Regions from separate parts of the Homo sapiens genome. Here regions 1 and 2 are each linked to region 3. Evidence: fine-mapped QTL for protein levels in blood plasma. Region 3 holds a variant in brackets. A gene starts in each other region. All regions are shown on their forward strands. Region 1 holds the start of IFNL1 (interferon lambda 1). Region 2 holds the start of BST2 (bone marrow stromal cell antigen 2). Region 3 overlaps IFIH1 (interferon induced with helicase C domain 1).

The links. PIP is the posterior inclusion probability: the model's chance that the variant is causal. The UK Biobank Pharma Proteomics Project read protein levels with antibody pairs (Olink). The fine-mapping took linkage between variants from a reference panel, not from the people measured, so its PIPs are less certain.
Region 1: it holds the start of IFNL1, and the variant in region 3 is fine-mapped to the plasma level of the IFNL1 protein (UK Biobank, PIP 0.96).
Region 2: it holds the start of BST2, and the variant in region 3 is fine-mapped to the plasma level of the BST2 protein (UK Biobank, PIP above 0.99).

Annotation. Positions count from the first base shown.
Region 1 is chr19:39,291,729-39,299,907 of GRCh38, forward strand. IFNL1 (interferon lambda 1) reads left to right here and starts at 4,679. Exons shown (of 5, transcript NM_172140.2): 1 at 4,679-4,864; 2 at 5,077-5,154; 3 at 6,236-6,379; 4 at 6,485-6,568; 5 at 6,663-6,945. The coding sequence starts at 4,694. The coding sequence ends at 6,788.
Region 2 is chr19:17,401,613-17,409,791 of GRCh38, forward strand. BST2 (bone marrow stromal cell antigen 2) reads right to left here and starts at 4,018. Exons shown (of 5, transcript NM_004335.4): 1 at 3,679-4,018; 2 at 2,759-2,825; 3 at 2,517-2,577; 4 at 2,068-2,212; 5 at 1,327-1,714. The coding sequence starts at 3,963. The coding sequence ends at 2,083. It overlaps BISPR (BST2 interferon stimulated positive regulator), which reads left to right and starts at 4,074. Exons shown (of 4, transcript NR_130766.1): 1 at 4,074-4,159; 2 at 4,465-4,684. It also overlaps a transcript of MVB12A not described here. RefSeq lists a silencer at 1,505-1,673 and enhancers at 3,197-3,935, 3,920-3,979, 4,050-4,429, 4,620-4,679, 4,730-4,779 and 2 more.
Region 3 is chr2:162,307,164-162,315,342 of GRCh38, forward strand. It overlaps IFIH1 (interferon induced with helicase C domain 1), which reads right to left. Exons shown (of 16, transcript NM_022168.4): 2 at 3,602-3,770. Among named protein-coding and RNA genes, the nearest start is that of IFIH1, 7.4 kb to the right of the region's middle. The variant C/G (reference allele first, on the strand shown) is at 4,073.

The DNA.
Region 1 (8,179 bases), not on the chromosome of region 3:
CTCCACCTCCCAACATTGCCATACTGGGGATTAAACTTTTTTTTTTTTTTTTTTTGAAACAGAGTCTCACTCTGTCACCCAGGCTGAGTGCATGATCTCAGCTCACTGCAACCTCCACTTCCCGGGTTCAAGCGATTCTCGTGCCTCAGCCTCCCGAGTAGCGCCACCACACCTGGCTAATTTTTTGTATTTTTAGTAGAGACAGGGTTTCACCCTGTTGGCCAGGCTGGTCTTGGACTCCTGACCTCAGATGATCTGCCTGCCTCGGCCTCCCAAACTGCTGGGATTACAGGTGTGAGCCACCACGCCCAGCCCTTATTTTTTTTTTTTTTTAATTTGTAGAGATGAGGTCTTGCTATGTTGCCCAGGCTGGGCTCAAACTCCTGGGCTCAAGCAATCCTCCCTTCTCAGCCTCTCAAAGTGCTGGGATTATAGGCATGAATAATCGTGCCAGGCCAAAGACAAGTTTTAACAGTCAGCTCTCTGGCCACAAATTATTTATATTCCTTCCACATGCAAAATAGACTCATGTCTTTCCTCAACCTCAAAAATCTCATCTACTATGGCAGGCTCAGATGCAAGCCCCAGGATCTCATCATCTAAATCAGATCCAAGTGTTGGGGAGGCTACAGTATTGCCAGCATATAGACCCTCGAGCACTTCTGGAGAGAGGGATACAGGTGCAACTATTTGGGAGAGCAAAGGATGAATATGTAGAGCTGTGCTGCCCATCATGATAGCCACTAGCCACATACAGTAATTAAATTTAAATAAAATGAAATAAATTGAAAATTCAGTTCCTGCATTGCACTTGCCAAATTTTAAATACCTAACAGCCACATTGGACCGTAAAGATGCACAATATTTCTGTCATTGCAGAAAGTTCTAATGAACAGCACTGATTAGACCATATAAGCACAGGTATGCCCTGTGACCCAGCAATCTTCAGTTCAGGTTCTCCCAAAAGCATATCCTGAAGCCAAAGATGCAGGTGGCTTATTTGGGAGCTGTTTCCCAGAAGCACAAGCGAGTGGGGAAACTGAGCCAGGAAGAGCAAAAAGCCAATAAATGGTGCAGAGTCTGGAGTAGAGGGAGGCACCTAGAGCACTTCCCTGACTCAGAGTGAGCACCTCCTTAATTTTTGTTTGTTTGTTTGTTTGTTGAGACAGAGTCTCACTCTGTCACCCAGGCTGGAGTGCTGTGGCACAATCTCGGCTCACTGCAGCCTCCGCCTCCCAGGCTCAAGCGATTCCTGTGACTCAGCCTCCTGAGTAGCTGGGTTTACAGGCACATGCCACCACACCCAGCTAATTTTTGTATTTTTAGTAGAGACAGGGTTTCACCATGTTGGCCAGGCTGGTCTCGAACTCCTGGGCTCAGGTGATCTGCCCACCTCGGCCTCCCAAAATGCTGGGATTACAGGTGTGAGCCACCACGCCTGGCCCCCTGCTTAAATTTTGACTCTGGTCCCCTAATTTGACCCACCCTAATTCCAGCCCCCAAAAAGGCTACTGCTGTGAGCAGCTAGAAGTCATTTGTTCTGGGGACAGTCAGAAGATCAAGGAGTCATGTAGAAGTCGCCCGAGAATTGACCCTCCAAGGGAAAGGGAAGCTGCAGTATTTATTCCATTGCTTTCAGCCCTCACTGTTTGAGGACTGCTACTGGGGGAATCAATCCTGCTACTTCCAGTCCATTCTGCATGTGGGCAGTAGAAAGGCCTTGGTCTCCAGCAGAGAAGCAGAAAGATCCAAGCACGTGAGGCAGGAAACTGTCAGCCTGTGTGGGAACTGACCACCATATCCACAAGCCGAGGGGATACAGTAGAGGGCATCAGCTGGTGTGCTACCGTATATTCCAGAAAGCCGCCCACCCAGAGGACAGGTGTGAGCCTTATGGTAATGGGGAGCTAGAGGCAACCTAAGTGTCCATCACTGGGGGAATAGGTAAGTAAAAGTGCTGTGGTTGTATACACCATGAAATACAGTGCACAGGAAACTTGATGTACACAGCTTGTGAAGAGATCTCAGAAGCAGTGTTAAGTTAAAAAATAAAAAAGAAAGAAGTAGAAGATTTATAGCACAATTCCACTTATGTAAATTGGAAACACATACACACACGAGATCACAAATTATAAAGATACATCTTTGCAGCTATTTATCAAGTGCATTATAGTGGGTGTCTGTGGGGGTGCGATGGGAATGGGAATTGGCAATGGAGGAATAAAAGCCTTGGAGGGTCTTTCATGGGCCAATTGTGATCCTGTGTTATGATCTGAAGAGTATGATTAATAACTTTCTGCACCAAAGGGCTAAGAAAAAAAATAAAGGAGTGAAAATAGGAAATGTCTGCACATCAGAGCAGTTTCTTACCTGCTACACAATTACTATTACTGCAGGGATGATGATAGCAAGGCAACCAGACTCACCGCCTGCCTTCTCTCCAGGCAGCCCCTCCAGTCCCCAGGAAATGCGCTTGCCCCCAGCGAATAAGGAGTTCCCTACCCCTCTCATGCTACCCAGAGGGACAGAAAGGAGAAGTGGGCCTGCTACCCCCAGAGGTTCTCATCTTCTACCTGGGCTGCATATGGAATAGGGAGCAAGTACATAGGACTCATCATACCCCATTTCTGCCTCTATCCCACTGTGGGACCTTAGGCAAGTCACTTTGCCTTCCTATGCCTCAGTTATCTCACTAGTAAAATGGGCATGATTATTGTATTAGTCAGGGTTCTCCAGAGAGACAGAACAAATAGGATGTTTGGATAAATAGATGATAGATAGAGAGATATAGACTAGATAGATGAGAGAGATAGACTAGATAGAGAGAGAGAGAGAGAGAGAGAGAGAGAGAGACTAGATAGATGAGAGAGAGATAGGAGGGGATTTATTAGGGGAATTGGCTCAGACAATTAGGGAGGCTAAGAAGTTCCACAACAGGCCATCTGCAAGCTGGAGAACCAGGGAAGCTTGTAGTGCAGCTCAGTTCCAGAATAAAAGCCTCAGGACTTAGGGGGTAGCTAGTGCAAGTCCCAGCATTTTTTTTTTTTCTGAGATGGAGTCTCACTCTGTTGACCAGGCTGGAGTGCAGTGACATGATCTCAGCTCACTGCAGCCTCCGCCTCCAGGGTTCAAGCGATACTCCTGCCTCAGCCTCCCAAGTAGCTGGGACTACAGGCCTGTGCCACCACGCCTGGCTGATTTTTATATTTTTAGTAGAGATGGGGTTTCACCATGTTGGCCAGGCTGGTCTCGAACTCCTGACCTCAAGTGATTCACCTGCCTCAGCCTCCCAAACTGCTGGGATTACAGGCGTGAGCCACCATGCCCAGCTGCACATCCCAGCATTCAAAGACCAAAGAGCCTGGAGTTCTGATGTTTAAGGGCAGGTGCAGGGTGTCCCAGCTCATAAGAGAGAGCAAATTCTCCTTTCCTCTGCCTTTTTGTTCTATTCAGGCCCTCGGCCAATTGGATGGTGCCCACCACATTGGGTAACAACGGGTCTTCCTTACTCAGTCCATTGATTCAAATGCCAATCTCTTCTGGAAACACCCCAGAGTCATACCCAGAATTAACGCATCACCAGCTATCTGATAAACTTAACCAGTCAAGGTGACACCTAAAATTAACCATCACAATTATAAAAATAACTACTCAGAGAAACATTAGGAGCATGAACTGAAATTAGTTAATGGGACATTCTTAAACCAATGGCAGAAGCTCCTTCTTGGCCAGGAGCAGTGGCTCATGCCTTTAATACTAGCACTTTGCGAGGCTGAAGCAGGAGGATGGCTTAAGGCCAGGAGTTCAAGACTGGCCTGGGCAACATAGTGAGACCCCTATCTCTACAAAAATAAATAAATAAATAATAAAGTAAGGTGGTGGCTCACGCCTGTAATCCCAGCACTTTGGGAGGCCAAGGCAGGCAGATCATCTGAAGTCAGGAGTTCGAAGCCAGCGTGACCAACATAGTAAAACCCAGTCTCTACTAAAAATACAAAAACTAGCCAGGCGTGATGGCATGCACCTGTAATCCCAACTACTTAGGAGGCTGAGGCAGGAGAATCGCTTCAACTCGGGAGGCAGAAGTTGCAGTGAGCCAAGATTGCACCATTGCACTCCAGCCTGGGCAACAAGAGCAAAACTACGTCTCAAAAAATAATAATAACAATAAAATAAAAAACAAGCTTTTTTTTTTTTGAAACAGGATCTCACTCCATCACCCAGGCTGGAGTGCAGTGGCACGATCTTGGCTCACTGCAACCTCCGCCTCCCGGGTTCAAGTGATTCTCATGCCTCGGCCTCCTGAGTAGCTGAGACCACAGGCGCATGCCACCACACCTGGCTAATTTAGAATAAAAAAGAAGCTTCCTCTCTGCCACTCAGGTAGCCTTATCCCTAATCTCAGCCTCCGTCAGGGACTCCCTGAGGCCAGTTGGCTGAAAGCTGCCCAGGGAGTTCTAAGGATTTCAGTTTCTCTTTCCTTCTTGATGCAGCTCCCAGCTCACTTGGCCCTGCCCACACCTGTTCCCTCATCAGGCTCCCAGACGGGCCCCGCCCACTCATGCCTCTTAAGTCAAAGTGGAAATTCTCATTTCCAATTACCTTTTCACTTTACACACATCATCTTGGATTGCCCATTTTGCGTGGCTAAAAAGCAGAGCCATGCCGCTGGGGAAGCAGTTGCGATTTAGCCATGGCTGCAGCTTGGACCGTGGTGCTGGTGACTTTGGTGCTAGGCTTGGCCGTGGCAGGCCCTGTCCCCACTTCCAAGCCCACCACAACTGGGAAGGGCTGCCACATTGGCAGGTTCAAATCTCTGTCACCACAGGAGCTAGCGAGCTTCAAGAAGGCCAGGGACGCCTTGGTGAGTTCCTGTTGCTGTGGATGAACCACTTCTACGGGTGTCCCAATTACTGCCCTTCTACTGTGGGCTAGCCTCTAGCCTTCCAACTATGGCAAACCTCTATCCTTTCTGCACTGGGTTAAACCCATGCTGTCAGGCCAACTTCATCCTTGCTGCTATGAGCTAGCTTCCAGCCATCCTGCTGTGGGCTAACCCCTGCCCTTGCTCTCTAGGAAGAGTCACTCAAGCTGAAAAACTGGAGTTGCAGCTCTCCTGTCTTCCCCGGGAATTGGGACCTGAGGCTTCTCCAGGTGAGCTGAAAGTCAGGCCCCCTTCACCCTTCCCTTGACCCTCTCCCCCCTCTTCTTAAGTGGCCCCTTAGCCTTCTTTGTTTCCCTTGTCCTTCACTCTCTTGGACCTCTCCTCACCTGTCCTGTGCCCCTGCCACTTCAAAACTGCTCTCTTGACTCTGTCCTTCCCCTGGGTCCCTTTTATCATCTCCCATCGGCCCCACTTCCCTAGCTCGCTCACCTGTCCCTGTCACTTCCACTCTCACTCTTCATTTCTCTCCCAAATGTCTCCAGTCTGTCGCCCACCTGTGCCTTTCGTCCTGCTCCACTTCTCCCTGTCTGTTCCCAACACTGACCCCCTCTCCCTCTCACCTGCCTCTGTCACCTGTCCCTCATTATCTCTCACTGACATTCATCCAGCTCATGCTCCCCCCTCATCCACCCTTCTCTTTTTTTTTTTTTTTTTTTTTTTTTTGAGACAGAGTCTTGCTCTATGGCCCAGGCTGGAGTGCAGTGGCATGATCTCGGTTCACTGCAACCTCTGCCTCCCGGGTTCAAGCAATTATCCTGCCTCAGCCTCCCGAGTAGCTGGGATTACAGGCATGTGCCATGATGCCCAGCTAATTTTTGTATTTTTAGCAGAGACGGGGTTTCACTATGTTGGCCAGGCTTGGTCTCGAAATCCTGACCTCAGGTGATCCACCCGCCTCGGCCTCCCAAAGTGCTGGGATTACAGGCGTGAGCCACCACACCCAGCCCTACCCTTCTTCTCTGTGCATGCAACTGTCCCTCTCTTACTGTGCCCCCAACCTGCTTTCTCCTCACCCGTCCCCACCCCGCCCCAGAGAACTTCTGTGACCCCCGTAAGTCCCCTTTCATTTGTCTCCATTTCACTTATCCCCTCACCTGCCTCCTTGACCATCCTGCCTCACCTGTATCCTTCCTCATGTCTTCCCCCTCCTGTCTCCTTCTCCCCAGACCCCTCACCTGTCCCCACCACATGCACTGTGTCACCGACCTTCCCCAGGACTGCCTACCTGTCCCCACTAACTGGGTCTTCTTGCCTGTTCTCCCTCACCTGCTCTTTCTCACCTCTCCTCAGGTGAGGGAGCGCCCTGTGGCCTTGGAGGCTGAGCTGGCCCTGACGCTGAAGGTCCTGGAGGCCGCTGCTGGCCCAGCCCTGGAGGACGTCCTAGACCAGCCCCTTCACACCCTGCACCACATCCTCTCCCAGCTCCAGGCCTGTGTGAGTCCTTGGGGCCCGGGCACCCAGGTCTGTGGGCTCTGAGCAGCATCCTTCCCCTGTGGTGGCCCAGGCTCCGCCTCACACACCGCCCTCTTCTGCCCACAGATCCAGCCTCAGCCCACAGCAGGGCCCAGGCCCCGGGGCCGCCTCCACCACTGGCTGCACCGGCTCCAGGAGGCCCCCAAAAAGGTGAGTGACCCAGGAAGAGAAGGACCAGGGTCTGGGGAGCCAATAGGAGCCCAGACCCTGGACAGCCCCTGACCCATCCCCTCCTCCCCTACAGGAGTCCGCTGGCTGCCTGGAGGCATCTGTCACCTTCAACCTCTTCCGCCTCCTCACGCGAGACCTCAAATATGTGGCCGATGGGAACCTGTGTCTGAGAACGTCAACCCACCCTGAGTCCACCTGACACCCCACACCTTATTTATGCGCTGAGCCCTACTCCTTCCTTAATTTATTTCCTCTCACCCTTTATTTATGAAGCTGCAGCCCTGACTGAGACATAGGGCTGAGTTTATTGTTTTACTTTTATACATTATGCACAAATAAACAACAAGGAATTGGAACCTTCTGTGATAGGTGAATCCTTGAGTGTGTGTGTGATTGTGGGTCTGTGACTGGGTGTGGATGTCTGGGTGATGCAGGCAAAATTTGTGACTCGTTGTGTATATTTGTGTGTGCCTGACTTCTGTGACTATGTATGTATTTGTATGGAAATGAGTGTCTGCCTGAACTTGAGTCTAACCAAAGGTGCGTAACTGTGCATGTTCATGCCCACACGTGTGCAAGTATGTGTGTGTACTGCCAGGCATGGTGGCTCACACCTGTAATCCCAGTGCTTTGGGAGGCTGAGGCAGGCAGATCACTTGAGGTCAGGAATTTGAGACCAGCTTAGCCAACATGGTGAAACCCTGTCTCTACTAAAAGTACAAAAATTAGCCGGGAGTTGTGGCATGACCCCGTAATCCCAGCTACTCGGGAGGCTGAGGCAAGAGAAATGCTTGAACCCGGGAGGTGGAGGTTGTGGTGAGCCGAGATCACATCACTGCACTCCAGCCTGGCCACCAAGAGAGAAACTCCATCTTAAAAAAAAAAAAAAAAAAAAAAAAAAAAAAAAAAAAAAGGCCAGCCTCCGTGGGCTCAGGCCTGTAATCCTAGCACTTTGGGAGGCCAAGGCGGGCAGATCACTTGAGGTCGGGAGTTTGAGACCAACCTGACCAACATGGAGAAACCCCATCTCTACTAAAAATACAAAAATTAGCCGGGTGTGGTGATGCATACCTGTAATCCCAGCTACTCGGGAAGCTGAGGCAGGAGAATCGCTTGAACCCGGGAGGTGGAGGTTGTGGTGAGCGGAGATCACGCCATTGCACTCCAGCCTGGGCAACAAGAGTGAAACTCCGTCTCGAGAAAGAAAAAAAAAAAAAGAAAGAAAAGAAAAGAAAAGCGGTCAGGATGCTACATCCTGGAACCTAACCACAATGGTGTGAGAAGCCCAGACATACAGAGAGACCACATATAGGTACTCCATCTGATAGTCCCAGTATAGCTTTTGAATCACCCCAGCTCAGGAACCAGACATGCGAGTGAAGAAGCATTTAGATGACTCTAGGTCCCAGCTGGAGCAGAGACAAGCCATCACCACTGGGCCCTGATTAAGTTCCTGACCCACAGAAACTGTGAGCATAATAATATTTGTTTTACGCCACTAAGTTGGGTTTGTTATAAGGCAAGAAATCATTGAAACAGTGAGAGAGCCACCAGCCCATCACAATTCACTGTGAGGTGTGTCACAAGAAA
Region 2 (8,179 bases), not on the chromosome of region 3:
AGGATAGTACAGAAATCTGGGACAAGGGACTCCTGGCTCCATTACCACAAACAGGAGTTGGAGTTGCAGAGACAATGGCCGGGATTCCGGGAGAACTTGGAGGAAGTAAGATAACAGAGAAGGAAGGGACTATGGCATCTTTGAGGATCGAATAAGGTAGGTGAAGGGTCCGTCGGGATTGCAGCCCTCAATTGTGGAGAAGCAGAGAGACTCTCTGGGGGAGGGGTTCCCAGAGCTGGGTACTGCAGAATGAATAAGAGTTTGGGGAATCGGGCCAGGTGTGATGGCTCATGCCTGTAATCCCAGCACTTTAGGAGCCCAAGGTGGGTAGATCCCTTGAGGTCAGGAGTTTGAGGCCAGCCTGGCCAACATGATGAAACCCCTGTCTCCACTAAAAATACAAAAATTAGCCAGGTGTGGTGGTGTAGTACTGTAATCCCAGCTACTCGGGAGGCTGAGGCAGGAGAATCACTTGAACCTGGAAGGCAGAAGTTGCAGTGAGCCAAGATCGTGCCACTCTACTCCAGCCTGGGCGACAGAGCAAAACTCTGTCTCAAAAAAAAAAAAAAAAAAGAGCCGGGGGTGGTGGCTCATGCCTGTAATCCCAGCACTTTGGGAGGCCAAGGCAGGCAGATCACCTGGGGTCGAGAGTTCGAGACTAGCCTGACCAACATGGAGAAACCCCGTCTTTACTAAAAATACAAAATTAGCCGGGCATGGTGGCGCAAGCCTGTAGTCCCAGCTACTTGGGAGGCTGAGGCAGGAGAATCGCTTGAACCCGGGAGGCGGAGGTTGCGGTGAGCCGAGACTGCGCCATCGCACTCCAGCCTGGGAAACAAGAGCGAAACTCCGTCTCAAAAAAAAAAAAAAAAAAAAAAAAAAGAGAGAGAGAGAGAGAATCTGGGGGATGAAGCAGGGGGAAACATTCTGACAATGCATGGCCTGTGTGTGTGTACAGATCCCAGTTTAAATCCCAGCCCAGCATTTTCTGCAGGCGGGAAGGGAAGCAAGACAAGGTTACTCTCAGTTACAGCCTCAGTTTCCTCACTGGATCCCCAGGAATCAGGAGAGGCTCTAGGGAGGAGATGAGAATACAACACCTGGGAAACGGTGAGCCCTGATGAGGGTGCATAGTTCTTATGTTGATCCCAGCAGAGACAAGGGCTGGGAAGAACTGGGGTGGTGCCTCCCCGAACTCCGTGGGCTCCTGAAAACGTCCTGGAGCAGGGAAGGGAGGTGTCATCGTCAACGGGGTGTCCACTCTCACCTGCAGGGGCGGCCCCAACGCTTGGGTACTAAAACGATGATACTCCAGGAACTCGAGAGTCAGGTGTGCTCTCCCTCAAAGGAAGTGTTTATTTTTTGGAGCTCAAAGACCCCAGAAAAAAGCAACCCCCCCCGCAAAAAAAACCCATAACAACAGGCAGCACATGCCCCCCACACCGCACCCCATGCCCAATCTCAGGGTGGGAGACAAGAGGGGGGACTCATTGTCCGGAGGGAGGCTCTGGAGGGAGACAGCCCTGGGTCAACCCGACTGTGTCCCCACACCCAGGACTTCCCCATGGCCCCTCCAGACCTGCTCCAGAGGCCCTTCTCCGGCTACCCCGTGCTCTCCCCGCTAACCGTGTTGCCCCATGACCCGCTCAGAACTGATGAGATCAAGGGAATGTTCAAGCGAAAAGCCGAGCAGGACGGACCTTCCAAGATGTGCCTAAAGGACCAGAAGAGGGACTCAGGGCAGACTGGAGGCAGCAGACACTGGCCCCGCTCCAAGCCCGGCCCCAAGCCCCGCCCCCATCGCTAGACCCGCCCCACCCATCCATAAGCCCCTCCCCTCCATCGATAGACCCGCCCCCATTGATAGCCCCGCCCCATACAGCTATCAGCCCGTCCCCGATCCAGGGCATCCTTCTCACTGGATTCTCCCTCCTTCCCCAAGGCCCCTCACCTCTGCGCCCAGTCCCTTCCCCTGCAGCCTCTCTCTCTAGACTTCGGAGCCTCTGCTTCCCCGCCCCGCTTCCCCAGCTTTCTTCTCCCTCCCGGGGCCGCCCCCTCCTCACTGACCAGCTTCCTGGGATCTCACTGCAGCAGAGCGCTGAGGCCCAGCAGCACAATCAGCAGCTGGGGCGCCGCAGCGGAGCTGGAGTCCTGGGAGCTGGGGTAGTACTTCTTGTCCGCGATTCTCACGCTTAAGACCTGGTTTTCTCTTCTGCGGTACAGATGGCAAATCAGGCATCTGCTCGTCCTGGCTCCTGCCGCCCTCCCTGTAAGCCCACCGCCCCCGGGAGTTCCCCCCGCACCGCCCCAATCCAAGTCACCGGGGAGGGAATGGACAGCGGCCACCCATGGCTCTGTGACCCTAGGGGCTAAGTTATCCTTTTGTGGGACTCAAACTTTATCCCTTGGGGCAATGGGGATTTTGGGAGCAAAGGAGATCCTGGGTCTTGGGCTAGGGATGTGGGGGTGAGAGGAATGTGGCAGGTGGAGGGTAGCGGGGGAAGGCTATCTCTGACCTCAGTCGCTCCACCTCTGCAGACGCGTCCTGAAGCTTATGGTTTAATGTAGTGATCTCTCCTGGTAGGGTGGGAGGACAGAAACAGGGGGCGGGTCAGCATGTGGCCATGCTGGGGCCCTGCTCCACTCTGGGACAGAACCTCCCCCTTACCCCAACCTCCAGCCCTGGTCTCCCTGCCCCCACCCCCTCTTCCATACCTGACTCACCCCTCCCCGGCCCTCTCCCTTCTCCCTTTCTCACCCTCAAGCTCCTCCACTTTCTTTTGTCCTTGGGCCTTCTCTGCATCCAGGGAAGCCATTAGGGCCATCTAAGAAGAGTTAGAATCTGGGGTTTTGGCCTGGGGAGTTTGGCTGCTGCCCCTGGGACCTGGGCCTCCTCCCTAGGTCCTGGGGACAGAGGGGCTTAAATGCAAACCCCTTTCAGGTTTTCTTCCAACCCTCTCTGCACCATGGTCTCCAACCTTAAAGAACAGCCACAACCACACACTCTCCCAGGGCCACCCATAAGCATGTGGGTCCTCAAAATGGGAGTTTTGAGGCCACCCCACGTGGAAACTTGGAGGCTATCGATAACCAAAGTTTAGTGGACATTTCCAGATTGCCTGAGCAATGGCCCAAGAAAAGTTAGAGGGCCCTACCAAATCCAGAATGCAGTGGGATTTCCCCGCCCAAGTGACATGCCCAGCGAGAGTTTCAAGATCCCCCATATCAGGACCCAGGTGAATATTTCAGTTTCTTAGGGATGAAGTGAAAATTTCAAAAGCCCCCTTTTTCAGGGTCTGGTGAGGTCCCCCTTCAACCCTGAATAGGGATTTCTACTCCCCCAGGACTGGTGCCCACGAGGAGTTTCAAGGCCCCCGACACCAGTGCCCTGGAAAGAATTTATAAATTCACCTAAGTCCCAGGGGGATACTGAGGTCCCCGATTTGGGGGATCTGGAGAGTTTTAACACCCTGCCCCTACACCAGTGCCCTGGACTGGGTTAGGGGCCCACAAACCCTGGTAGGGGAACCTAGGTCCCTTGATGTGGGGGCCCAGGAGCAGTTTCAGGACCTCCCCTGCATCTCCCTGGAGACCCACCCTGGGTCAGATTTCTGGGGAGAGATTCTTGTCCCTCCCACCGCCTAGTACTAGGCCATCCAAAGGAGTTGAGGAGCTTACCACAGTGTGGTTGCAGGTGGCGGCCTGGGCCTCCACATCCTGAAAGCCCTTCTGGGCCTCGGTCAGCTCTTGTTGCAGGAGATGGGTGACATTGCGACACTCCATCACTGCCCGAAGGCCGTCCCGGCAGGCCTCGCTGTTGGCCTTGATGGTGAAGATAATCAAGGGCACCCCCAGAATCACGATGATCAGGAGCACCAGAATTCCTATCCCCAGCAGAAGCTTACAGCGCTTATCCCCGTCTTCCATGGGCACTCTGCAATAGTCATACGAAGTAGATGCCATCCAGATCTCCCCTTTAGAGTCTGGCCTGGAGTTAGGGGAGGGTGCTGGAATCTTCTACGGGCCACCCCTTTATTAGCATAGGAAACGTCCTGACCAATAGCAAGTTCCAGGAAGTGCTCTGACCAGCAGCTCTTGCATGAGGCACCTACAGGCAGAGGATTAATTAGGTTTTCAGTTTCAGTTTCCCAGAAAGGAGGTGGGCTTTTTTTTCACCCTGCTTTAAAAGCCCTTGGGCCCTTCCCAGCTGGGTGCCAGCCAACTGTGGCTGCCTGGGACACTCCATCTTAAGTCCCTGTGCCTCTGCTGTGTGTTACTGAGTGCCTAGGCCGTGCCAGCCTGTATTCATCTGTACTATGACCTGAAGAGGCAGAGGCCATCACTGTTGGTCCGGTCTCCACCTGGGGAAACTGAGGTTGCACAGTTGCGTGGTGGAGTGAGGGCAGGGCCTGGGTCTGGGGGCGGGGCCTGGGTCTGACCCCAGGGACTGGTTTTTGTGTTCAGGTGTCTCTGTGGTGACGAGCAGGGCTTCATCCAGTGCCTCTGTCCCCACCGAGGGGACTATGGGAGACATGGAGGGTGTGTGAGCAACAGGTGAGACTGGAGCCAGCTGAAAACTGGGAGACCGACCCAGCCAACAAACAATGTCGGTCTCTGTCTTGGCACCTGCAGGAAACAAGCTCCTACTTCCAGAAAAAGTGCTCCTGGGACTCCAGGATACCAGGTAAACTCTCTGAGCCTGTTTCTTCATCTGCAAAGGGGAATAACAGGGCCAGCCTCAGACACTGTCCATGTGGCCAAGAGAGCCAGGGCTTCCTACAGGAAATCAGGCCCATTATCGGCACCCAACTGCTGGGCATGACCGCTGAAAGGGGACTGCATGTTTTTCTTGTGGCTTCTTCAGCCACATCCTGACCACAGCCCAGATTCTGTTAGGTCTGCCATTTCCATGTTTTTTTTTCTTTTCAGCAGGGCCAGACAGTAGGCGAGGTCAAGTCCAGAGCCCAGGCCTCCCAGAAGGCCTGGGGAACTCCCCCCAGGCCCTGACTCCAACATCCCTCAGAAGGACCCCATTAAAGCCACTTAGAGCCAGGCATGGTGGTACATGCCTGTGGTCCCAGGCTGAGGCTGGGAGGCTGAGGCAGGAGGATCACTCGAGCCCAGGAGTTTGAGGCTGCAGCGAGCTATGATTGTGCCACGGCACTCAAGCCTGGGTGATAGAGTGGGATCCCATCTCTTAAACCAATAAACAAAAAAATCACTTAGAACCAAGAACCAATTAACAAGCTGTGGGAGATGATCTTGCTGAAAATTCTGAGGGTGAACTTGTCCCAGGAGGAGGGACCTACCAGCCTGGCCAGGACTCCAGGTGCAAAGACACGACCTTTGCCTGACTTATTTGACTAAGCTGACTTATTTGAGCAGCACTGTTCTGGCCTGCTAACTTTAGGGTTAGTTTGGGACCAGGTCGGAAATCACAATTGCATGAATTGCACATTGGAGGCCAGGGTGGTGCACCTCTGGGCAAATGAATTTCCTCTCTTAGCATTGATTTCCCCAGCTGTAAAATGTGGATAATAATAGATTGATGTCCTCTCTAAATTTTGCAGCTGTAAACAGTCCCAGCCCTGCAAACCGAAAGTTTGTTGCTCTTCCCTTTAAAATTACTGTAGGGACCAGCCCCACAGGGTCAGTGGGTCTCTCCCTGTGTGCGGCGACGAGAGAGTGTAGAAATAAAGACACAAGACGAAGAGATAAAAGAAAAGACAGCTGGGCCCGGGGGACCACTACCAGCAATGCGCGGAGACTGGTAGTGGCCCCGAATGTCTGGCTGTGCTGTTATTTATTGGATACAAAGCAAAAGGGGCAGGGTAAAGAGTGTGAGTCATCTCCAATGATAGGTAAGGTCACGTGGGTCACGTGTCCACTGGACAGGGGGCCCTTCCCTGCCTGGCAGCCGAGGCAGAGAGAGAGAGAGGGGACAGACAGAAAGACAGCTTATGCCATTATTTCTGCATATCAGAGACTTTTAGTACTTTCACTAAATGACTACTGCTATCTAGAAGGCAGAGCCAGGTGTACAGGATGGAACATGAAGGCGGACTAGGAGCGTGACCACTGAAGCACAGCATCACAGGGAGACGGTTAGGCTGCCAGATAACCGCGGGCGAGCCTGACTGATGTCAGGCCCTCCACAAGAGGTGGAGGAGCAGAGTCTTCTCCAAACTCCCCCAGGGAAAAGGAGCCTCCCTTTCCCGGTCTGCTAAGTAGTGGGTGTTGTTCCTTGACACTTTTCGCTACCGCTAGACCACTGTCCGCTCGGGCAACGGGCGTCTTCCCAGACGCTGGCGTCACCGCTAGACCAAGGAGCCCTTCTGCTGGCCCTGTCCGGGCATAACAGAAGGCTTGCACTCTTGTCTTCTGGTCACACCTCACTATGTCCCCTCAGCTCCTATCTCTGTATGGCCTGGTTTTTCCTAGGTTATGATTGTAGACCGAGGATTATTATACTATTGGGATAAAGAGTAATTACTACAAACTAATGATTAATGATATTCATATATCTCTAAGATCTATATTTGGTATAACTATTCTTGTTTTATATTTTATTATACTGGAACAGCTCGTGTCCTCAGTCTCTTGCCTTGGCACCTGGGTGGCTTGCCGCCCACAATTACAAATGGTGGGATGGGTGCAGTGGCTCATGCCTGCAATCCTAGTACTTTGGGAGGCTGAGATGGGAAGATTGCTTGAGGCCAGTAGTTCGAGACCAGCCTGGTCAACATAGAGAGATCCTATCCCTATTTAAAAATAAATATATATATATATTTTAAGTACATATATTTATTTTATTTTGTTTTAATTAATTAATTAATTAATTAATTTTTTTTGAGATGGAGTCTCGCTCTTGTTGCCCAGGCTGGAGTGCAGTGGCACGATCTTGGCTCACTGCAACCTCTGCCTCCGGAGTTCAAGCGATTCCCCTGCCTCAGCCTCCTGAGTAGCTGGGATTACAGGCGCCCACCGCCATGCCTGGCTTATTTTTGTACTTTTAGTAGAGACAGGGTTTTGCCATGTTGACCAGGCTGGTCTTGAACTCCTGACCTCAGGTGATCTGTCTGACTCAGCCTCCCAAAGTGCTGGGATTACAGGCGTGAGCCACTGCACCTGGCCTATATTTTATTTTATATTTTTAAATATATAATGTATTTTTATATATTGGTTGGTGCAAAAGTAATTGCGGTTTCTGCCATTACTTTTTTTTTTTTTTTTTTGAGAGGGAATCTCTCTCTGTCGCCCAGGCTGGAGTGCAGTGGTACGATCTCGATCACTACAACCTCTGCCTCCTGGGTTGAAGCGATTCTCCTGCCTCAGCCTCCTGAGTAGCTGGGACTACAGATGCCTGCCACCATGCCTGGCTACTTTTTGCATTTTTAGTAGAGATGGGGTTTCGCCATGTTGGCCAGGCTGGTCTCAAACTTCTGACCTCAGGTGATCCACCCAACTTGGACTCACCAAGTACTGGGATTACAAGCGTGAGCCACCGTGCCCGGCCTATATTTTATTTTATATTTTTAAATATATTCTCCCTCTGTCACCCAGGCTGGAGTGCAGTGGTGTAATCTCGGCTCACTGCAACCTCTGCCTCCTGGGTTGAAGTGATTCTTCTGCCTCAGCCTCCTGAGTAGCTGGGACTACAGATGCCTGCCACCATGCCCAGCTACTTTTTGTATTTTTAGGAGAGACGGGGTTTCGACATGTTGGCCAGGCTGGTCTCGAACTCCCGACCTCAAGGGATCCACCCGACTTGGCCTCCCAAAGTGCTGGGATTACAGGCATGAGCCACCGCTCCCAGCCTCTGCCATTACTTTTTTTTTTTTTTTTTTTTTTTTGAGATGGAATTTCACTCTTGTTACCCAGGGTGGAGTGCAATGATGCAATCTTAGCTCACCACAACCTCTGCCTCCTGGGTTCAAACAATTCTCCTGCCTCAGCCTCCCTAGTAGCTGGGATTACAGGCATGCGCCACCATGCCCGGCTAATTTTGTATTTTTAGTAGAGAGGTTTAGGTTTCTCCATGTTGGCCAGGCTGGTCTCAAACTCCCGACCTCAGGTGATCTGCCCGCCTCGGCCTCCCAAATTGCTGGGGTTACAGGCTTGAGCCACCGCACCCAGCCTTTTTTTGTTTTTTTCTTTGAGATGGAGTCTCGGTCTGTCT
Region 3 (8,179 bases):
CTTTTAATTTTAATATGGACACAACGAGTAGTTCTTTGTAATGATTAGACTGTAGCTAAAAAAACAATATAAGCATTATGCTAATCACAAGAAAAGTGATTTCCTGTCTGACCGTCATGTTTAGGAAGTAAGTCACTTATTCAGTGACACAAAGTTACATTTAAGGCTGAATTAATGAAAATGCAAATTTGGTAGTTTTCTTTAGCTTTGCTCTTGCCATTTTGTTTCCTCACTGTGTGTTCTGCACGAGACGTACATCTGCTTTAATGTCAGCCTATATTCATGTATTCTGAATTTCTGGGGATTTTTAAAACATTTAATGAAATATTTTGTGCCCCTCTTTTCTTCTTTCCTCCATTCCTCACTTCCAGCTTTTCTTACTTCAACTACATGTAATGGGTATTTTATTAAGGGCTTATGTGGGTTAAAAAGAAAATCAAGAGTTTTTGCCTTTATGAAGCTGCAATCTGTCAGAGAAGACTGATGCCATAAGGAAAATTTTCTAACGTATCATTTTTTATTATCTCATCTTAAAGAACCCAGTGAAAATGTGCCCCACTTTGTATGGAAAATTTCCTAAAGAAAACTGTTGTGACTTTGGACAAGAAGAAAACTTGGCAATGTTTGCAGTTAGATATTAAGTACATTAGGGACTATTATAATAGTTAATTTATTTTGCACTCACAATATAAATACTTTACATACATTAAGTTATTTAAGTCTCAAAATAAACCTAGATGGTAAGTAATATTATTGTCTCCATTTTACTGAGGTGATAAGTAATATTATTATCTCCATTTTACTGAGGAGTAAACTGAGGCATAGAGAAGTCGAGAACCTGGCCAAAGGTCACACATTCAAGGAAGGAGCCTGGATTTGATAAGCATCAGGATCCGATATGTATCAGGACCCAGAGTCTAAGCTCCTACAGTAGTCTGTTTATGCTGCCATAATAAAACACCATCAACTGAGTGGCTGAAACAACAGACACTTCTTTTCTCACAGTTCTGGGCACTGGAAGTCCAAGATCAAGGTGACAGCAGGGTCAATGTCTGATGAGGACTCTCTCCTTGATTTGCAGATGGCCACGTTCTCCCTGCGTCCTCACACGGTTAAGAGAGAGAAAGAGACAGATGTTTCTCTTTTTCTCTTTCTTCCTCTTCTTAAAAGGCCACAATTCTATCAGATTAAGGCCCCATTCTTATGATTCATTTAATCTTTTTTTTTTTTTTTTGAGACGGAGTCTTGCTCTGACACCCAGGCCAGAGTGCAGTGGCATGATCTCGGCTCACTGCAACCTCAGCCTCCTGGTTCAAGTGATTCTTCTGCCTCAGCCTTCCAAGTAGCTGGGATTATAGCTGCATGCCACCACCCCAGCTAATTTTTGTATTCTTAGTAGAGATGCGGTTTCGCCATGTTGGCCAGGCTGGTCTCAAACTCCTGACCTCAGGTGATCCACCCGTCTTGGCCTCCCAAAGTGCTGGGATTACAGGCGTGAGCCACCACGCTTGGCCTGGCTCATTTAATCTTAACTATCTCCTACTATCACTGTCTCCAGATAGAGTCATATTAGGTTCCAACATATGAGTATTAGGAGGACAAAATTCCATCTGTAGCATTTTACCATTGGCTTCCCAAAATTCATATCTTTACTACATACAAAATACATTCATCTCATCTCATCAGCCCAAGTGCCTTAACTCACTGAAGCATGAACTCTAAGTCTAAAGTCAAAAGTCTCACCTAAACATTGTCCAAATCAGACGTAGATGAGACTAGAGGTGTGATTCATGATAAGGCAAATTCATCACCAGCTGTGAACTTGTGAAACCAGTTGAGCTACATGTTTCTTTTCCATAATACAATGGTGGGACAGGCATAGGATGGACGTCTTATTCCAAAAAGGAGATATAGGAAAGAAAGCAAGGGTGATGGGTCCCAAGCAAATCCAAAACTTATTAAGGTAAATTCTGTCACATCTTAAGGCTTATAAGGCTTGAGAATAGCTCTGTTTGGTTTGATGCTCTGCCTTCCAGGTCCACGGAATGGCAGGTTCTAGGGCTCTGCAAGACAGCCTGCTCTCTCTAAGGGCTCCATCCACACAGCTTTCTGTGAGGATAGCTCTGCTTCTGAGACACTAGGCAGGGTCATCCTGAGGGCTCACTAAAACCAGAGAGACAGTTTTGCCCTTTGAAACCAAAAAGGAAACTGCCTTGGCCTCTGGGTCTGTGGTGGAAGTGGCAACCCTGATGACTTCTGTATCACTTTTGGGGGCATTCTTTCCTTTCCCTGAAGAATAGTACACATTCACAGCCAAATAGCTCTATGGTCTGGTTCTGTAGAATCCAGAAAGTCCAGTATCCTTTTCTCATTCTGTCCTGCTTTCTCTGTCTCCTTCAGTTCAAACTGGAAGTGTATTTGCTGGTATAATATATCTCTACTCCTACCTTCTGCTGAAATGGCTGATTAAGTCCATCAGTAGCACCCATGATCTTGTTATCAATTGGTTGTTCTCTTTATAACACAATTTCTCATTTTTTGCCATATGGATAGGCTGAGAATTTTCCAGATATTTAAATTTTGGTTCCTTTTTGCATAACAACTCCTTCAATTAATTTCTCTTCTTTTGCATTTTACTATAAGCAGTTAGGGGAAATCAAGCTGCTCCTTCAGCATTTTGCTAAGAAATTTTCTCAGCCAAATATCCAAATCCATTACTTGTGAGATCAAGTTTTATCCCATTTTATAACAAGGATCACCTTTCTTCCAGTTTCCAATGACATTTTTCTCATTTCTCTCTGTGACCTCACCAGAATCACCCTGAACACCCATATTTCTACCATTCACCCAAAACTCTTACAGTCTCTATCAATTACCCAGTTCCAAAGCCACTTCCACACGTTTAGGTGTTTGTTACAGCAGCACCCCACTTTTTACAGCAAAGTTTTCATTAGTTAGGGTCACCAGAACAAAACTGCAATGATTATAATTAATTAATAGTTAACTTTCAATTTGTCTTTCATATGATATTTTTGGAAACATAGGATGCATACTACGAAAAGAAAAATAAGATAGCAGTTTAAGTGAGATTTACAAATAATGTAGGAGAAGGAGCTATAAAATGTTATGTTATTACTATTATTGAATGCTGTTTAAAATCTCACATTAGGTAAGGTTGAGATATATTGACAAAACAATCCTTTTATCAAATGCTTAATACATTGCTTAAAATGTATAAAAATGTTCAGAAGAATATGCAGCAGATTTTTTATAACCACTAAAATACTTTCTTCCAATGTATTTGTGTATATTTAATGTTACATAATCTTGATAAAATTTCTGGTAGTCATATTGTTTTTAAAATAAGGTAGTAGAAAGAGTGTTGGTTGGATGAAAAATGGTCTTTGATCAGTTGATATTTTCCCAGGCATCAATTTCCTCATTTGTTAAGGTGATAAAATAGATGATCTATCACATATGTTCCACTCTTAAAATTTTGATTCTAAAAATCTTGGTGTTTAGCATTGTGTCTTTCTGCTTTATTGAATTCTCAATCACTAGGCAGAATTTGAAGAATCTTCCTCAGTAAAATTACAAATACCTGCATTGCTTTCTGAGCAATCAGAGCCTGTTAACTCTTGGACAAGTTCATTGTTTCCTGTTTGACGAAGAACATTCAGAAATGCAGAGAACCAGTTTTCTTTCTGCACAATCCTTTTTAGTAGCTCTCTTACACCTGATTCATTTCCATTGTTTTCTGCAGCAGCAATCTGTTGTAAGAGAAAATTAGAATTAAGTAAGATCAAACATCTTCTGAATAACCTTAAACAGGAAATACCCTTTAGAAAAACTGAGCAATTAAGCATAAGTATAAATAAAGGCTTACATTGAAACATTGAAGAAAATAGCAATGTTACCTGTAGCAATTCTGAAGTCGGCAGGGAAAAAAATCTCCGGGACAACAACAACAACAACAACAAAAATCTCTGGACCAAGTGTCCTTTTAAATATGAACCATTTTTTTTAAAAGCTATTGAATTATTCAAACCTGACACCTAGAAAATAAATTTTA[C/G]CTCAGCCATTCCTGAATAAAGGATAGAAGAGAAAGTATCTTTAGTCTGCAGCCATGTTATGTCTATTTTCACCAATTTCTTTCTGTATATCTAGGGCTGGCTATATTTTTTCAATCTATGGAGTCTGTAAATGGGAAATCAAACATTTCTTATCTCCTTTCTTCATGATTATCATTATGAAATAAGTAATTACTACTGCAGATTTATATTTTTTCCTATGTAATATTTGCATAGTTGATTATTACTATAATCAATTTTTCTCAAATTTGTGTTTTTTTAATGTTATGGGAAATTTATTGTTATATCTTTTTTTTGGAAATATGGGGCAGAATTATTTTTATATCCATTCATTAGAGTCTTTAGCCTTCTTTTATTTTCTCTTTTAGATTAGTAAATTTCTTTTAAATGTGGATCTTTTGTGTAATCATTGTCACAGTGCATTTCCCTAGGTCCTAATATAGCAATAAGGATTTGGAGGAAAGAGTAACTCAAGCCATGTTTAGACATGAAAGAAGTTAGGCAGGACATCATTAGCTTTCTGTGGCATTAGGCAATTTACTTCATCTCCCTAGACCTTGGTTACAATATGTGGTTACAAGGCAGCTGAAAAGAAATTTCAGAGTTTCTATATCTTAGCTGCATGTTAGAAACAACCGTAAAGCCTTAAAAAATACTGATGTCTAGGAAACACCCCTAAAAGATTATGATTTATTTTGTCTATGTTAGGAACTCAGATATTAAAGAAAAAGTAAAACATCTCATGTGATTCTATCAGCCTCCCAGATAAGAAATATTGACTTTGATATTATCAAAGGTCCTTCTCAACATTTGCCAATCTTCCACATGTATCATTTGGATTGTTTAGTTCTTTCCTACAAATTTATGTATTTTCTAGTTCTATAAATATATTCCATAACCTTTTATGTCAGAAATTTGTTAACATTTTTGGAACAATGTCTGGCACTAATTCAGTGTTAGAACTATTATGGATGATTGGGAAGAGTTATTGTTACAAACACCTCACCTGCACAAGCACATACAGCATGGTCTCTACCCAAGGGATATTTCCGTCTTAGCATCTAGTAGTTAAGCATGCTGTTCTAGGGAACTTGAATATATTAACCCAGCAGCCCAGAAATAGGTACCAATATTAACTCATTTACAGATCAGAAATCCGAGGCACAGAGATGTTTAGGTACCTCTCTGAGGTCACAAAGTGAGTAAGTGGCAGAAGTAGAATTTGATCCCAGGCAGTTGAATTTAGAGGCTGAATCCTGCCTTCTTGAACTATAATTATAGCTTATAATTTTCTCCAATTTTAAATTCATTTTCTGGCAAGAAGTGGTTAAAAATAACTATTTGAACTCAGTAAATTTCAAGTGAATTCAGTCCATGTCACCCACAACATTTTCTAAGCAGATTTTTGCTCATTTTTTACCATTTTTTTCTAGCTCTCTTAGTCTCCTAATGGAAATTCTTTGGCTTCCCTGATGTTGTAACATCTTTATTATCATCTGCTAATTTAACAAGTAATTGCTATAGATGTAAATAAGACTGGTTTCAGTGTCTTCTTTTAACTCAGCCATTCTCATATTTTATTACCCCATCCTTTAATCAGCTTTAAATATATTTGACTGAAGCAATCAGGAAGGATTTCCTTAAAAAGAACCAGTGAGGCAACAAATGCTGTTATTAAAAATCCCTAAGCATATTCTATCCACAAAATTTTCTTCAACCACTATTCTATTAAGTCAACTTTTACTGTGGAATCATATTTTTCAAGCTTTCTTTGCCGTTATTGAGTCCAAGCATATAAGGATCATGATGTCATTATTTCCTAAACATATTCTTACAATTTGAATGTGGAACTACATATATCTGTGCAATTTTAGCAGCCTCATCAAGATGCTGAATTTTTAAGAAATCTTCTCAGTTTTGGTGCTGGAAAGTACATCAGCTCCCTTTGAAGCAATTATATAATTTTAAAAATTTAATATGTTCTCCTAAAACATTGTAAAGATATTGATCCCAATATGTAAACACAATTACAGAAATTCGTGGGAGGTGAATATTTACATTTGAGACTGCAACAAGTCATAAAACAATTCTCACCCATGCCCCTCCCCCACTCGAAGTTTTCTCTGTGAAGTTAAAAATGGATGGATGTTTTCACTATGTAGTCTATTAATACATTGTTAACTAATTTATGAAATACGAAATAAAATTAATTTGGTAATAATACAACTCAATGCTTTCATATTCTAAATTCTTTGATATGTTTTTTCTTTCCAACAGAAATCAGTGAAGAAACCAATGACATTTCCATAAAGCACTGGCTTACCAACACAATTGTACAGTTTAATGAAAATGTTTTCTTCCCTTTATAATAACCTTAGATAGCTATTTAAATATAATGGTGATTTTTTTAACCCAGCAGAGTTCAACTCTCAGATAAAAGTAAATCAGGAGGCAAAACCTGTATGTTAAAAAAGAATTTTAAAGAACCAGTTTCCCACAAAAAGTTAATGTCTTAACCCAATGAATATTTATTGTCACATTGACATAGCTAATTTCTTATTCATACTTTTTTTTTTGCAGATGAAATTCTTATCTTTCCTAATTTGCCAGACAATACAATGTTCCTGGGGAGATTGACTTGGGTGCTCAACTTCATGTTGGGAGAACTGGACTGTTCTTAGGTGGACTAGTCATGGCATCTCTGGTTCTTCTGTGTAAATGGAAGGTGTGTGGAGTCTCCAGGACTACAGATGCATTGTGTTCTGAACTGGCCAGGGATGAAACATGCATCTCTCTTTAGCTGTTCAGCTTGATTATTAAGACACTATGGAAATGTTTATATGATCACTTTCGTTCCCAGAGTTCATGACTGCCTAAATTGATGGGTGTGCCAAGTTGTAACTTAGTTATAACTAAGATGTAACAATGCCAAATTGTAACTTAGCATCCTAAAAGAGGAGCAAGGCAGTACAGGGGTACCCCCTTACCATTAAGGATTGCTTTATTATAATGATTGATAAAATGGCATATATTTATTGCTGAAACTCTAGTATTTAGAATAGTCCCTTGTATACAGTAGACATTCTTCTTTCCTTCCTTCCTTTCTTCCTTCCTTCCCTCCCTCCCTCCCTCCCTCCCTCCCTCCTTTCTTTCTTTCTTTCTTTTCTTTCTTTCTTTCTTTCTTTCTTTCTTTCTTTCTTTCTTTCTTTCTTTCTTTCTTTCTTTCTTTCTTTTTCTTTCTCTCTTTCTTATTAGATGGAGTCTCGCTCTGTCACCAGGGTGGAGTGCAGTGGCGCCATCTCAGCTCACTGCAAGCTCCGCCTCCCAGGTTCATGCCATTCTCCTGCCTCAGCCTCCCGAGTAACTGGGACTACAGGCTCCCACCACCACACCCAGCTAATTTTTTTGTATTTTTAGTAGAGACGGAGTTTTACCGTGTTAGCCAGGATGGTCTCCATCTCCTGACCTCGAGAGCCACCCTCCTCGGCCTCCCAAAGTGCTGGGATTACAGGCGTAAGCCACCATGACTGGCCTACAGTAGACATTCTTTTATCAACACTAATTAACACTACAACACAACTTCACGAAAGGACAAAACAGTCTCTGTGTTTTTCTCCTATCTTTTCACCACTAGCATGGCATCCGGCACAAAGATGCCACTCAATAAATTCAAACTGAATGAATGAGTGAATGAATGAATAAGTTTTTGGGTACTTGCTGGACACAAACCTATGTATAAAGTCATTTTCAGAAGGCCTGCTGTAATTACGGGCAGGGGCTAGGAAATGGGGTGGGAATCCTAAATTAAAATAATAGATCAAGTAGAAAATGTCTATGGGGAAACAGAAAAAGAATGAAAATACAAGACCATTTTATAGAAGTCTTGATTACTTAGTTAAATGCTATTTTAAGCCTTCAAAAAAGCAAATTTGGAAATCTTATTTTCATCATTCATCCATTCTCTAACGCCTGGCAACACAATTCAATACGTCATGTGTTTTCAACGCTTATTCCAGACACTTTCAGAAATAAATTCAATTAGTCTATCAATCAAGTAATCAATGCTTACTAAACACCAACCCTCTACC